Linked DNA regions of Homo sapiens: regions 2 and 3 are each reported to be linked to region 1. The links are microRNA targets in miRTarBase. Many come from high-throughput screens and were not tested one by one. Region 1 holds a microRNA gene; each other region holds the end of a gene's coding sequence.

The links. Region 1 holds the annotated microRNA hsa-miR-5586-3p (CAGAGUGACAAGCUGGUUAAAG, at 1,685-1,706, opposite strand). A microRNA usually pairs through its seed, bases 2 to 8, with sites in the 3' UTR of a target mRNA and lowers its output. Matches are read on the target gene's strand: a 7mer-m8 pairs with bases 2 to 8, a 7mer-A1 pairs with bases 2 to 7 and ends in A, and an 8mer does both.
Region 2: the mRNA of ELAPOR1 is a reported target of hsa-miR-5586-3p. Seed matches in the 3' UTR shown: 7mer-m8 at 1,209-1,215 and 8mer at 1,630-1,637.
Region 3: miRTarBase lists PERP as a target of hsa-miR-5586-3p. Seed matches in the 3' UTR shown: 7mer-m8 at 144-150.

The regions. Positions count from the first base shown.
Region 1 is chr14:59,645,278-59,648,537 of GRCh38, forward strand. MIR5586 (microRNA 5586) reads right to left here and starts at 1,743; the gene lies at 1,685-1,743. The region is part of intron 3 of RTN1 (reticulon 1); the gene reads right to left.
Region 2 is chr1:109,202,745-109,205,744 of GRCh38, forward strand. ELAPOR1 (endosome-lysosome associated apoptosis and autophagy regulator 1) reads left to right here. Exons shown (of 22, transcript NM_020775.5): 22 at 200-3,000. The coding sequence ends at 268. Among named protein-coding and RNA genes, the nearest start is that of SARS1, 9.7 kb to the right of the region's middle.
Region 3 is chr6:138,089,353-138,092,352 of GRCh38, forward strand. It overlaps PERP (p53 apoptosis effector related to PMP22), which reads right to left. Exons shown (of 3, transcript NM_022121.5): 3 at 1-2,916. The coding sequence ends at 2,690. Among named protein-coding and RNA genes, the nearest start is that of PERP, 17 kb to the right of the region's middle.

The DNA of each region.
Region 1 (3,260 bases):
CCTTCAGGTGCTGGAAAATCTGAGGTGATTAGAAACTGGAGCAGACCTCCTGCATATTCCAGCAGCCCAATGGAAAAGTGGCCAGACTTTTATATATGTTTGTTACATGTTTTCTATATATTACATGTTTTCTATATGTTACATGTTTTCTACATGTTACATGTTTTCTATATGTTTGTTACATGAGTCCCTGTTCCCGTATCTCCTCACTGGGCAGGTTCTCCCAGCCTGGGTCTCCAGCCTTTCCCCACTGGAGCTATTGAGCCAGTAGCAGTTCTTCAGCTCTCTGGGACAGAGCTCCCAGTGGGAGGGGTGGGTTGCCATCTTTGCTGTCTCACAGCCCTCACCCTTCTTGTCTCCAGGCTCTAGAGAGTCCATGGGGACCCGGCACTGGTCTGAACCCCCAGCACAGAGCATCCACCTAATGGAAAAGTGTCCATACTGTTCTCCACGCAGGTCCTGGTCCTCACTTCTCTTCACTGGGCAGAGTTACCAGGCCCAGGACTCCAGTGCAACCACTCTGCCCCTGCCTGACCGCTTCAATCAGAGGCAGCCCAGCAGTTAAGAGAACACCTAAATGCAGAGATGAGAAAGAACCAACACAAGAACTCTGACAAGTCAGATGACCAGAGTGTCTTATATCCTCCAAATGACTACACTAGTTCTTCAACAAGGATTCTTAACCAGGGTTGGCTGGAATAACAGAAAGAAAATTCAGAATACTGATAGGAACAAAGATCATTGAGGTTCCAGAGAATGGCAAAATCCAATCCGAGAAAACTAACAATCAAAATAAAATGATACCGAAGCTGACAGATAAAATAGCCAGTATAAAAGAACTCATCTGATAGAGCTGAAAAACAAACTGCAAGATTTTCACAATGCAGTCACAAGAATTAACAGCAAAATAGACCAAACTGAGGAAGAAATCTCAGAACTTGGAAGACTGGCTCTTTTAAACACGACAGTCATATACAGATAAAGAAAAAATAATGAAAAGGAACAAATAAAACCTCTGAGAAATATGGGATTATATAAAGAGGCCCAAACTATAAATCACTGGCATCCCTGAAAGGGATTGGGGGAAAGCAAACAACTTGGAAAACATATTTCAGGATATCTTCTGTGAAAACTTTCCCAACCTCACTACAGAGGCCAACAGTCAAATTCAGGAAATACAGAGAACCTCTGCAAGATTCTCCATAAGAATATCATCACCAAGATACACAATCAGACTTTCCAGGGTCAAAATGAAAGAAGGAATGTTAAAAGCAGCTAGAGAGAAAGGGAACCCCATCAGGCTAGCAGCAGACCTCTCAGCAGAAACCCTACAAGCCTGAAGAGATTGGGGGCCTATATTCAACATTCTCAATGAAGAAAATCTTCAACCAAGAATTTCATATCCAGCCAAACTAACCTTCCTCAGTGAAGAAGAAATAAGATCCTTTTCAGATAAGCAAATGCTGAGGGAGATCATTACCACCAGATCTGCTTTACAAGAGATCTTGAACGAAGCACTAAATATGGAAAGACCATTACCAGCCAATTAAAAAAAAACACAAGTACAGAGGCCAGTGACACTATAAAGCAACCACACAAACAAGCTGGCATAAAAAACAGATAACAATACAATGACAGAATCAAATCCACACATATCAATAATAATCTTGAAGGGGTCTTGCTTCTTTAACCAGCTTGTCACTCTGTGCCCCATTTAAAAAGCATATAGTAACAAGCTGGATAAAGAAGCAAGGCCCAATGGTATGCTGTCTTCAAGAGACCCATCTCACATGCAGTGACATCCATATGCTCAAAATAAAGGGATGGAGGAAAATCTACCAAGCAAATGGAAAACAGAAAAAAGCAGGGGTTGCAATCCCAATCTCAGACAAACAGACTTTAAACAAACAAAAATCAAAAAAGACAAGAGCGTTACATAATGGTAAAGGGTTCAATTCAACAAGAAAACCTAACTCTCCTAATACGTATGCACCCAACACAGGGACACCCAGATTCACAAAGCAAGTTCTCAAGAGACCTGCAAAGAGACTTAGACTCCAACACAATAATAGTGGGAGACTTCAACACTTACTGACAGAACTAGACAGATGATCAAGGCAGAAAATTAACAAGGATATTTCAGACCCAAATTCAACACTGGACCAAATGGATCTGATAGATCTCCACAGAACTCTCCACCCCAAAACAACAGACTATACATTCTTCTCATCACCACATGGCACATATTGTAAAGTCAACCACACAGTTGGTTATATAACAATTTTCAGCAAATGTAAAAGAACTGAAATCATACCAAATTCACTCTTGGATAGCAGTGAAAATCAAGACTACAAAAAACTCAAAACATGCAGTTACATGGAAATTAAACAACCTGCTCCTGAATGGCTTTTGGGTAAATAATGAAATTAAGGAAGAAATCAAGAAATTCTTTGAAACTAATGAGAACAAAGATACAACATACCAGAATCTCTGGGACACAGCTAAGGCAGTGTTAAGAGGGAAATTTATAGCACTAAATTCCAACTTAATATCAAAAGTTAGAATCATCTCAAATGTATAACCTAACCCTGCAACTAAAAGAACTAGAGAAGCAAGAGCAAACCAACTCCAGAGCTAGCAGAAGACAAGAAATAACCAAAATCAGGGCTGAATTGAAGGAGATCAAGACATTAAAAGCCATGAAAAAATAAGCAAATCCAAGAGTTGGTGTTTTGAAAAACATTAATAAGGTAGTCCACTACCTAGACTAATAAAGAAGAAAAGACAGATCCAAATAAACACAATCAGAAATGACAAATGGGATGTTACCATTGACCCCACAGAAATACAAATAACTATTACAGACTATTATGAACACCTCTATGCACACATGCACACAAATTAGAAAACCTAGAAGAGATAAATAAATTCCTGGACACATATACCTTCTCAAGACTGAACCAGGAAGAAATTGCTTCCCTGACCAGACCAATAATGAGCTTTGAAATTGAATCAGTAATAAATAGTCTATCAACCAAAAAGTCCAGGACCAGATGGATTCACAGCTGCATTCTGCCATTAAAATAAAGAAAGAAGAGCTGGTACCATTCCTACTGAAACTATTCCAACAAAATGAGAAGGGACTCCTCCCCAACTAATTCTGTGAGGCCAGCATCATCCTGAAACCAAAACCTGGCAGAGACACAACAAAGAAAACTTCAGCCCCATATCCTTGATGAACACTGAGGCAAAAATCCTCA
Region 2 (3,000 bases), not on the chromosome of region 1:
GAAAAAGATTTTTATTGTTCTCCAACTGACCCTGAAGGGAGCAAGCAGAATAGAGGGTATCTCATTTCTGTGTTTCCACAAAGCCACTGAAACAGGAATTTCATAAGGGTTCCTTCTGTCACCTATTTTCCATTTCTCTCCTTTGTCCCCAAACTTGCCCCTGTGCAGCAGCCAGCTCCTGTCACCATCTCTCTTTCAGAGGACTCCTGATGGATTTGACTCAGTGCCGCTGAAGACATCCTCAGGAGGCCTAGACATGGACCTGTGAGAGGCACTGCCTGCCTCACCTGCCTCCTCACCTTGCATAGCACCTTTGCAAGCCTGCGGCGATTTGGGTGCCAGCATCCTGCAACACCCACTGCTGGAAATCTCTTCATTGTGGCCTTATCAGATGTTTGAATTTCAGATCTTTTTTTATAGAGTACCCAAACCCTCCTTTCTGCTTGCCTCAAACCTGCCAAATATACCCACACTTTGTTTGTAAATTATGCCCTTGCTTGTATCTTGTTTCCCAAAATGGCCCATCCGCCAGAGCCATAGCTTCGTCTGCTCATAATTCTTATAGCTTTGGAATGAAAATATTTCTATCTTCTTAAGTATAGAAACTATTTCCTCTGTCCTCTAACTTAAGGGCAGAAACAGCTGGGAGTTTTCCTCGCATGCCCTCAGCTCATGATCTCTTCAGGAGAGAGGCTGGGTGAGGAGGGTGTCGGGGTTCCCTGGTGGATAATCTTCATAGCAGCCTGGATCCATTTCCCCTGGATAACCAGCTCAAAGGGAGTGAAAATGGTAGTCTGAGGGCAAGGGGAGCAAGGCCTGGGTAAGAAAAGCCTTGAAAAGCATAAAAAGAGGCCGGGCGCGGTGGCTCACGCCTGTAATCCCAGCACTTTGGGAGGCCGAGGCGGGCAGATCATGAGGTCGGGAGATTGAGACCATCCTGGCTAACACGGTGAAACCCCGTCTCTACTAAAAATACAAAAAATTAGCCGGGCGTGGTGGCGGGTGCCTGTAGTCCCAGCTACTCGGGAGGCTGAGGCGGGAGAATAGCGTGAACCTGGAAGGCGGAGCTTGCAGTGAGCCGAGATCGCGCCACTGCACTCCATCCAGCCTGGGTGACAGAGTGAGACTCTGCCTCAAAAAAAAAAAAAAAAAAAAAGAAAAGCACAAAGAGAGGCAACAAGGAATGTTTTTGTTTTTGAGACAGGCTCTCACTCTGTCACCTAGGCTGGAGTGCAGTGGCATAATCACTGTTCAGTGCAGCCTCAAGCTCTTGGGCTCAAGCTATCCTCCCATCTCAACCTCTCAAGTAGCTAGGACTACAAGTGTGCACCACCAGGCTCACTAATTTTTATATTTTTTGTAGACACAGGGTTTCACCATGTTGCCCAGGCTGGTCTCCAACTCCTGGGCTCAAGTGATCTGTCCGCCTCAGCCTCCCAAACTGCTGGGATTACAGGCATAAGCCACTGCACTCAGCCTTTTATTTGTTTTTTAAACCACGTAGCTCATTGCCTTCTCTTAAGTAAATGATAGATATTCTCACTGAAGCCAAAGGAATAAGTTCATCAAGAAAATGCCCAAAGCCCTGGTGGATACATCCTCCCTATCTTTTTTTTAAACCTTCCACTATCACTCTATGACACTGAAAAGAACCAGGTAAGCCCCAAACCCAGATGTTCCAGCCTTATCCTCTGTTGGGTTTACCCACAGACATAGCAAACCCTGTCAGTGAGGAAAATTCCCCATCCTTGAGTGCCCCCGTCCTAGAAGTTTGGGCCATATTATGGAACAGGGGTCTCTTATTTGAAAAGAGCACAAGGAGGCCAAGATTTTAATGGGGCACTTTAGGGGATACAGCCCACAATGGCATGGGCCTGAGGTGGCCGTGATGTCTGCTTCTAAGCTTAACGCATCTGCTCAGGCACAGAATAAACGTCTAGGCTGGCCAAAAAAGGAACTGAATCCCAGGCCCATACGCCAGCACCAGAATCAAACCAGTCTTCAAGGAAGGAAGGCTAGGAGAGTTTAACAAGATTTTCACTGGGCCCAGCATGGTGGCTCACACCTGTAATCCCAAGGCAGAATGGTGGCTTGAGCTCAGGAGTTCAAGACCAGCCTGGGCAACACAGTGAGACCCTGTCTCTAAAAAATTTAAAAATAAACAAGGTGTTCACCAAGCTGGGATACTTCTCACTATTAAGCCCCTATCTTTCTCTTTTTTTCATTCTCAATTGCTTTGTGTGATAAAAAACTAAAGAGACTTCTGGTCCAATTTCTGGCAACATCCCTTCTGAAAGGTGAGTAGAGTGGGTGTCTTCTATGCCCATTTTCCCCAATTTTACACAAACTATTATCAATGAACTTTTAAGTACCTAGAATGGGTAAAACCAGAGCAAGACTTTAAATTACCTTCTTCTTTCTTCTACTGGCAGTTCTGCCTCCATCACTATCAGGCTAGGGTGACCTTCCCTTGGTCAAGCCCCAATTGCCCATGATTTGTGCCTGTGCCCTTTCTCCAGTGACCATTTGGTGACCAGATGGTAGATATAGAAAGGGGATGGCATTTGCAAGTGACTAGTCTGCCACAAAATGCTCATCTGATTAGCCACTGCTGCCCTGGCAATGGCTTTGTAAGAGTCAATGAGAACTAGAGCCAGGCTGTGGTCCCTGGCCATCAACAGTGTTGGTGACGGCAGGGAGTCCCTTTGGTTTAATAAATCCAGTTTTTCTTTGGGTATCCAAATTCTCCCCTCCTTTTGTAGGAGTCAGGCTCTCAGAACCTGTGTCCATGTTGGAACTTCCCCCAGTGTGGATGCAGATACGCAGCTCCTGAGCTCCAGCCTAAAGTCTTCTGTAGCCTCAGCAATACTTGGGCACCTGCTGTCTCACTGAATAGCTTTCTTTTGTGACAAAGGCCACAGACAGCCCTTAGACTATTCCGGAAACAGTAGGAAAAATTACATATGTCTTTGACTTCTTTATTCTGACTCCACTGATTTT
Region 3 (3,000 bases), not on the chromosome of region 1:
TGAACTTGTGAGTTCTGCAGTCTATGGTTTTGAAGCTAAGTTATTACACACAAGCTACCTTGTGTGAACATGGAAAGACCTTGATATATTACTTCTTTGTTACAATCAGCAGTAAGTGCCACTTAGCATGTCTGGCTACTTACAGAGTGAAATAATTGCTTAGGAACCTAGAACTGCTTATTTAAAGGGTGGGAACTCAATATTTAATTACTGAACCAAAAAGCACCTCAGCTTTACTGTGGGAAATCTCATGCAATGCACTGTTAGCCTTCAGGTGGTTTCTCAGCCCAATTCTTCATTACTCTCCAGAATCCTCTGGAACTTCCCTTCTGTTATGACATAAAGGTATCTGTCTTGGTGAATCTGGATCAACAAGGAATGGCAGATCTCTATACTAGAACAAGGCTGAAGGAAGCAGACCATTTCTGCAAAATAAGAGTTTATCTTTGTCATAAATACTTTAGGTTGACATGGTTCTATTATATCAGGCTCGTTGGTCCCAGGAGGTTGCATTTTTCCTAAATGTGCGCCGTTAAGGTATTGTGTGATTGAGGAGGGGAAGAAGGCTGGATGGGAAATCATGCAAAGACAAGTGCATGTGGTAGAGAAGCTTATAAACGGAGTCATTTTCATGTTTAACAGGAGACCACGTTTCTTAATCTCTAGATATCCAGTATCTTCTTGAATGAGCTGTGGTATCACTTTAAAAGATGGGATTTTTAACATTTTTAATGACCACTTCAAATTCTCCACCAGCCACGGCATAGTTGTGTGGGTTTTTCTTTTCAATTTTGGTATAATCACCCAGATTACATTTCTCTATGAGAAACATTCACCTCGCATTTTGAAAAGCATAGAAAAATTCACTGCCAAGGACTAGCTGGCCAACAGTAGCCCTAGGGAGATATATTTCCGTTCTCCCACCCAGCCTCTCTGCACCCATCCTCACAATGACATACACCATAGTGGAAGTAACATATGACTTATGGTGGGAAAAAAAATAACAAATGATAAAATGGGAAGGAGGGCAAGGGGAAAATAGAGAGACTGCTACCCCACCACCTGAATGGAAGGGGACCCCAGCACAAGGAGGAGGCTTCAGCTACACTGCACACATGTCCCCCGGGTGTCTGAACCTGCCAGAAATCTCTTAGTCCATTTTCCTCTGGTTGATAGCACTGCAGAGAAATTGTTTAATGTGTGTCTAGGGTATTGTTCATTGAGGAAAAGTTCAGGGAATAGACTATTAGAATTCATTAATCTCCACTCAAAAATTGGTTTTGGACACCTAAAATGAGCAAGGCCCTTAAAACTTCAAACAAAAAAACAAACAAAAACCACTTTTCATTATATCCCATGTTCTTATTACCCATTTTTTTTTTAATTCCTTTCCCCAGATTTGAAAAATGGAAAAACTACAAACTGGAAACAAGTTTAGAATACCTGGTTTATTGGGAAAACTTCATAATGAAAACTACAATTAGCTTTTTCCACAACTTACAAAATAATAATCTGATATTTAAAATGAATTGGTTTTCATTATGTAAGTCGAAATGGTAAAAAATCATAATGACCTATCCGATGCATCATATATATGCTATTCAGAGAAACTCAAATCCCCGAATTCTCCTGTGGCATGTTTTATATCAGACATTTAAAATCTGTTTACCAAGAAAGACCAGGATTTTAACTATATGTAGGTTTCTGCTTACAGTTGCAAACTATCAGAAGCCTGTCTATATGATAGAGCCCAGATAAACCTGAGATTTAGAAAAGCAAGTCATTTATTCTCCTGAGGCTGTTTTAGTGGCACTTTTGTGACAAGAATGACCCTCCTAATGCTTTACTACACAACTTAACCAGATCTATCAGTCATGATAAATTAGACCCAGTCCATCTTTCAATCCAGTCTACTCTGGTTCTGAACATATAAACACAAAACACTACAGATTTATTAATATAGCATTTTCCCACACCCTAACCCTATAAAGAACTTTAAAAGAGAAAATTTCATCTAAATATTTCACACTTAAAGGAAAGCCTTACCAACTATGGCAACAGGTTTGGACCATGAAATAGTACTTTCCTAGATGACATATCGAGTCAACATGAAGCCTTAGCTAAAATGAATGATTCAGGATATTAATGAGAAATTCTCACAAATGATATGCATTTAGGAAATGATTTTGCTTTCCTTAAATAGTTCGAAGGCTTGAAAATAAACTTTTTTTTTGCATTTCTTTTAGAATGTTTGGTCATTAACAACTTTTAACCTTATCTTCCTCTTCTCCTTAGCCCTTAACAGACCGAGTCCATTCTATTTGGAAATAACAAGAACTTGATCAGATTATTAAATCTTGGAAACCTCATTTTTACCTTATAAAGTGTTAAGTTTCACGTGCATATTCTCTTACAAATGTAGTATAAATGTTATGGATAGATATAAGGAAATATTGGCATAGTATAGGTAATTAGTGAAAAGACACAACTTCACAAAACATAATAAAAGATAAACATGAAACTATAACACTACTTAAAAAATATTTTCTCCCAAATTATTTTAGCATTTTTGACTAGTTTAATAATATGAACACTGCCAAAAAATGGGTTCAAAGTCGCCTGGAGAAACAGTTTCTTCTTCTGGAGTCCATCTCAGCAGCAGCGATTTTCTCCCACATTCATTCCCAAGTTAGGCAGATGTGTAGAAGTACCTGGGCTTGGCATTGCCCAGAAGGTCATCTTCGTAGTTGGGGAGGCAGCAGAAGAAGAAGGCACAGCCAATCAGGATAATCGTGGCTGCCCACCCAAAGCCGTAGGCCCAGTTATAGATGTAAGTGACAGCAGGGTTGGCATGAAGGGTGAAGGTCTGGGTGTACTTCACGGGGTAAATTACCAGGGAGATGATCTGGAACACAGCTAAAGGGAAGAAAAAAATCCCAGGGTATGAATGCATACATGCATGAAGGAATAAATACACATTAGCGACAGATTACCTCCTTC